2 separate regions of the Homo sapiens genome follow, and region 1 is linked to region 2. Evidence: fine-mapped expression QTL. A gene starts in region 2. The other region holds a variant in brackets. All regions are shown on one strand. Distances are from middle to middle.

The links. PIP is the estimated chance that this variant, and not a neighbour inherited with it, causes the effect.
Region 1: its variant is fine-mapped to the expression of SYT1 in monocytes after Pam3CSK4 (Quach 2016, PIP 0.95). The same link has a PIP of 0.9 or more in monocytes and monocytes after R848.

The regions. Positions count from the first base shown.
Region 1 is chr12:78,976,228-78,979,256 of GRCh38, forward strand. SYT1 (synaptotagmin 1) reads left to right here. Exons shown (of 11, transcript NM_005639.3): 2 at 1,572-1,704. It overlaps LOC105369863 (a long non-coding RNA gene), which reads right to left. Exons shown (of 7, transcript XR_007063385.1): 5 at 366-442. Among named protein-coding and RNA genes, the nearest start is that of SYT1, 110 kb to the left of the region's middle. The variant C/T (reference allele first, on the strand shown) is at 1,453.
Region 2 is chr12:78,863,821-78,866,554 of GRCh38, forward strand. SYT1 (synaptotagmin 1) reads left to right here and starts at 954. Exons shown (of 11, transcript NM_005639.3): 1 at 954-1,289.

The DNA of each region.
Region 1 (3,029 bases), 110 kb after region 2:
GGCCAAAAAGAAGAAAAAAAAGTTTAAAATAGGCAATTAATATTCATTAAATAAATCACAGATAGTAAAGAAGTATTAAAAGCAGCCTGAGCTGGAGTCAACTATTTCTTGTCTGTATCAGCCAGGCAAAATGTTGCTCAGAAGCCATTCAGGGAATAAAACTCTCTTGTGAAGAATCTGTTCCTTTAAACTAAGGACTTACGTTTTCCCAAACCCTGTAAATTCCCATGTTTTTCTATATGGATTTATGCCAGAATCATTCCAATCCACTGGTTGGCGAAGAGAATGGTTTAATAACTGCAGGGGAAATGTAAAATTCTATTCAGAATATAATGAAAGCTGTATGGTATTATGTATTCATTTACCTTGTAGTAGGAAAACTCAAATCTTCAAATAACAGAGTGTTGCCATGTCAGCTTCCTCTGGAGAGTTGAAAACTAAACTGTAAAGACAGTAGAACGATGTGATTTGTATTGGAGTCACTGGAATCGACAAAACCTAAATTTTTTTTATAATTTATTTATTTCAATTAACAAATGACAAATTTTATAAACTAGTGGTATACAATATGATTTTAATGTATGCTCTACTATGCAAAGCCTCAATTCTTAATTGGTCTACAGGATTCAGCTGATAACGTGAATTCTGTCTACCTGCGTTTTTATATTTGTGAAAGAATTATGCTACTTTATAACTCAGTTTTTTAGAGTTTCTATATTCTAAAATTATTACTTTCAACCATCAAATATAAGATAGTAGAAATATGGGGCAAAATTTTTTGCAGTTTTATATCAAAAAAGTAGATGAATGCAATAGGGAGTGCATTAAAGAGAACAGAAAAAAATTTTAAAAGAAAGAATGGGGAAAAAAGAAGAGAAAAAAATGTAAAAGAAAGGCGAAGGAAGGGAACCCGAAAGGGCAAAGAAAGTGAGGAAGGAAGGGAATATTGAAGTATTTGATAGAGCTTCCCTACCACCCAGATGCTTTAGTATGTGCAGTATTTCAAAGTTCTTCCTAGGTAAATAGCAATGTCTTTCCTTTTTATTAGCACTGCTGCAGCTGCTGTTGCTCACAAAGAGATTCACAAATCAAAATAGACTCAGTTAGCTTTTCAATAATTCTGAAAAGGTAGGAGAACATTGCCAGAAAAGGATAGCACTCCAGTATCCTAACATAGAGTCTTGTTAGCAAAACAAAGTGTGAATTGCTTAGATAATTCCCTGCTGTTGGTAATTCCACTGGGTGTCTTCTGTGGCAGCACAGGCTACTTCTCCTCTATAGACCAATGCCATTGAACAGAAGATGTCAGAATGATATGAAAAAGTTGCTCTTTTGAAATGTTTGTTCTTCTAGATTTTTTTAAAATGTCAGCATGATTCATACCTATTGGTTCTTAGCCTGGAGCACCCAGCACAACCAGGAATTGAGGAAGCTAGAGCAGGATGTGAATAA[C/T]GAATGGGCTGCATAAGCAGAAGTCTATACCCAGTCAATAAGCAGAAGTCTATACCCAGTCAGTGTGCAGAGTTGCAGGCTAGCATTTTCACAGATTCTATTATTCTCTCTCTCTCAAGGGAAAACGGGAAAACTAGCAAGAGCTAGCAAGAACTAGCAAGAGCTTGAACAAACGCCTGGACTCAGATTGGAAGACTGCTCATTTGTCTACTGCCTCATTCCTGGAAATTGCACTGGAACTGTCTGATTAAGGTATTTGGAAAAAACAAATTTTTGACACATTTTGTTGATGATCAACCTCCTTTATCCATCCATATCTTTTTATATGTGGCGGCGGGGCCGGCGGAGGGAAGGGTAGTATTTGTGCTGAAGATTGAAGAACTGTATCTCTTTAAAAATTCTTGTGATATTAAGGGGAAATTAGTGTTTGTCACATATTCTGAAATTATTACTATTATTAATGTTTTTGAAATGCTGTTTTCGTTGGTGGGGCACTGGCTCCTTGTATAACATGTTTGCTTTCTCCCACTGTCATTTTGTACTCTATCAAATCCAAAGTTGTCATGGTTCATTATCTGTAGATGATCTTGAGCAGTCTTGCATTCTAAAAGAATATGCCATGGCATCTGCCTCTGTGCTTTTGTGGCCTGCTGCACAGATGATATTTTAGCACGAGTATTGGGTGAGGGGTTAGAGGGGAGAGCAGAATTTGTCTCAGACTGATGTTTCCTTGTACCATGCTGTGTCTCATTCTTTCATATATGGCTAATTCAACAGTGAAGTACATATATCACACTGTGACTATTACATATGTTAGAGTACATAATTTGGGTTGTAAAGTATCTGTTTGTCTTAACTAATGAATTCCATCAAATTCAATTACCATTCTTCATTAACCAATCAAATTACTCCTTTGGTCTAAGTCATTTCTAACACACTTTTATTAGGCATACACACAATTCTATGAAGTAAACGTGAGGTGATTAGATTATCTCATGATCTTTATTTGGAGTCCCATGCTACAGAAGTTTGGATTTCTAAAGAATAGCCTTTCACATTACTTCCACTGTATACAGGAGAAATAGTGTTACAGTGTGAAGCTCTGTCTTTAAGACTCTGTTTTACTACTTCTATCTTAGACTTTCTTTTCCCTGAGGAAGTTTGCTACAGTGGATCGCCAATACAAAAATACATAGAAATACACCAACTATATATTCCTATAAAATTAACCTATTTATTAAGTAAATGTACCTATACGCTTATGCGATACTGGATCATAATATTTTTCACCTTTTAGGAATAAATTATTTCAGTACTAGAACTTTCTCCTATCTCTTGCAGTAAGATACCACAGTGTAGGATCACAGTTGTTATTGTTGAAACACTTTTTTCAAATTATCATTATTTCTTTACATGGATTTCTTTTTAAACAAAGTGGTTCTGGAAATGCATATACCCAGTATTGATAGTACTTCAGTTTTCTAGGAAATAATTGCCACAGTACTAATTTACATTGGATATTTTAATCATTTTACAATGAAGGGCAGGTGCCTAATGTCCTTGCAGTATGATTCTTA
Region 2 (2,734 bases):
AAATGAAAAAATAAAAAAGCATCTCCAACAATGTTGCACTTGACCCAAGTGTACAAACTTATTGGTCGCTGCAATGGAAACTCCCAGTGCACTCTCCACGGCCTGGCAGCCGCCGCTGATGGGTGGAGTCGCGCTCCCGGCCCCACCTATGGGACGGAGCTGCTTCTCCCGCATCTCGGCTCCACCGCACCCTTCGCGGGAAGTCCCCAGGCTTCCAGCAAAGCTCAGCTTATCCCGCCCCCGCTTCCAACCCGGAACCCCAGAAGAACAGCATGATGAGCCTCCGGCAGCCAGGTGGGCCACCTCCCCGCGGCTCAGTTTGAGGACACTTGTGCGGAACCCTTTCACATCCCCACCCTACCCAGCTTTCACAACTCCGCCGGGTTAAATGGCCAAAGACAAACTTCTACCTCTCCTGTCCCCGGTCCCAGCTTTTCAAAAACCCACAGCTGGCGAACCCACACACATCGAAACTCCTAGGTCGCTGTTGCAGTCTGGGCATGCTCAGTATCAGGGTAGGTTTTGATTGAGAGTAAAAAAAAAAAAAAAAAAGCTTTGTATTATGCTCTCTTTCTCCTGTGCATACTGCTTGCTGAACAGCTTGTGGGGCATTCCTGAGTCTACCTAGAGGTTTTATCAGACGCCCTTGATTGTGTCTCCTTGGGATCTGTTCCCCTCTTACTTCACCCCCTCCCCCAACCCGCCTCCACCCCGCTTCCCAGGTCCCTGTCCGCTGTGGGGATGGAGAGACACTAACAGAACTGGGATGGGCGATGTTGGCTGAACGGATCCACCTATTATTAGTGCGCGGGGATTGGCTCCTTGGCGCAGCGTACCCGAGGTGGAGCCAATCAGGATGCTGGGGCTCGGAGATGATGGGCGGCCGCCTCCTCACTGGAGGGATTCCTGGAGAAGCTGCAGTGTGGGGATGCTCTAGACCGAGTACTGCCCCCAGTGTCTTTCCACCTCCTCCTGCAGCAGCGGCAGCGGCAGCAGCAGTTAGCAGCGGCAACTTGAGGCTGCACCCCGGGCAAGTCCCCAGGGTGGTGCTCAGCCGAGAGGGGGGCTTGGCGCCCCGAAGGGGTGTGTGTAGGGTGGGGGCGACCACGTGGGACCAGCTGGTGGCCCTGGAAAACCTCCCACACACCCACACCCACACACCCCTTTTGTGTTGCAGGCTGCCCCTCCAAGAGCGGAGGCAGCGAGAGTACGCGTGTGCCTCGCGCCGGTCCACGCGGGGAGAGCACTGGGGACCGAGACCCGGCACCACCTCCCGGTCCGCCCTCCAGGTAAGGAAGCGGGACTGGCGGCGCGGCCACCTCGGCGGTGCCTATCTGCTCGAATCCATCCCAAAGATTTTCTTCTCGATACACTTGGGTTTTAGTGGTGGGAGTCTGAGACCTAGGGAGGGATCCCCGGGTGGCCTATTGTGAGAAATATGAGACTACATGTGCATCTCCTGGAAAAGCACTTTGCACAGCGCCCGTGATTTAGAGCCTGGAGTTGATGTTGGGCATCCCCCATCTTCTTGCTTCCTCTTTCCTTCTCTTGTTCTCTCTCCTCCGTCCCCCACCCCCAATCTCAATCTTTTCTCTCTTTCTCTCCCACACCTCCCCTCTCGCCCTCCTCCCACCCTAAGCACGCACAGCGTTTCTTTCTCCTCCTGGAGAGGATTGCCTTTCTTAGAGGAAAGAGGGGGAGTGAAGAAAGGAGAAAGATTTCTTTCTGTTGGGGAGAGGGATATGGGGGGGGGGGGGAACGTAAACAAGATAGAATACAAGCTCTGCGAAAATCAGAGCACATAAAGCAATTAAACTGAATAAGGGGAGTAGACAACCAGTCCAGCTTGGGCTGTCAGAGAGAGGAAGCGTCAAGTTTGACTTGATTTCCTCCTTGCAAGAGTCTATGTCTCTCACTTGATTCGTTCAAATGGAACAAAAATAAACCGACAATCCAACCCACTTTCAACTGCTTAATTGCTTTTGCTTTTGAGTGCCAACCATCTGACTTTTCCTGTTTCCATCTGTCCTGTGGGGCTAACAATTTGGTATTGCACATCAGTGTTAATATCTGAACTTTGAAAGCTTTCTTGAGTAACAAAAAAAAAAAAACAATTAAAATAGATTATTACTTTCCTGAGGTTTCTTGGTATGGCCTGTTGTTGGGGGATCAAAAAATGTAAAGTTTCAAAACATTTGCAAGGGACAACAATTTTATAGGGAGGCTTGGATTTCTACTTTGAGAAAGCTAATCTTCTAGTTAGCTTTGTGTACATGTTGATATTCACTTTCTCCAGTATTAACCCTTTCGTGAAATAAAGCAACTGTTTAACTTTTGTATGGAAGCTACATTTGTGTAGAATTTTCACTTTATTCTACCTTTGTACTATTTGCATTTTATTGTCTGGATACCAAACTTATGCCTGGCTTTATTTTCTTTTAATAGGACAATATTTAATGGATGTAAACATGATGTTTATACAATTTCAGCACTCCCTTTAGAAGGCACATGGAGGCTCAGTTGGACAAGAATCCTCCTGTACTGGAACTAAGTTTAGAAAGTAATGCTAGAAAGATACCCTAAATTTTAAAAATCCTGAAGGGGAAAACATTTTTGTAACGTCTTGTTAAAAGAAAGAAAAATATATCAAAACACCAACATGCCCCTGGCTGCCTGCATAATAGGTCAAGTAAATGGTACTTGTTGGACAGAGCCTTTACAGCAGCTTCAGCAG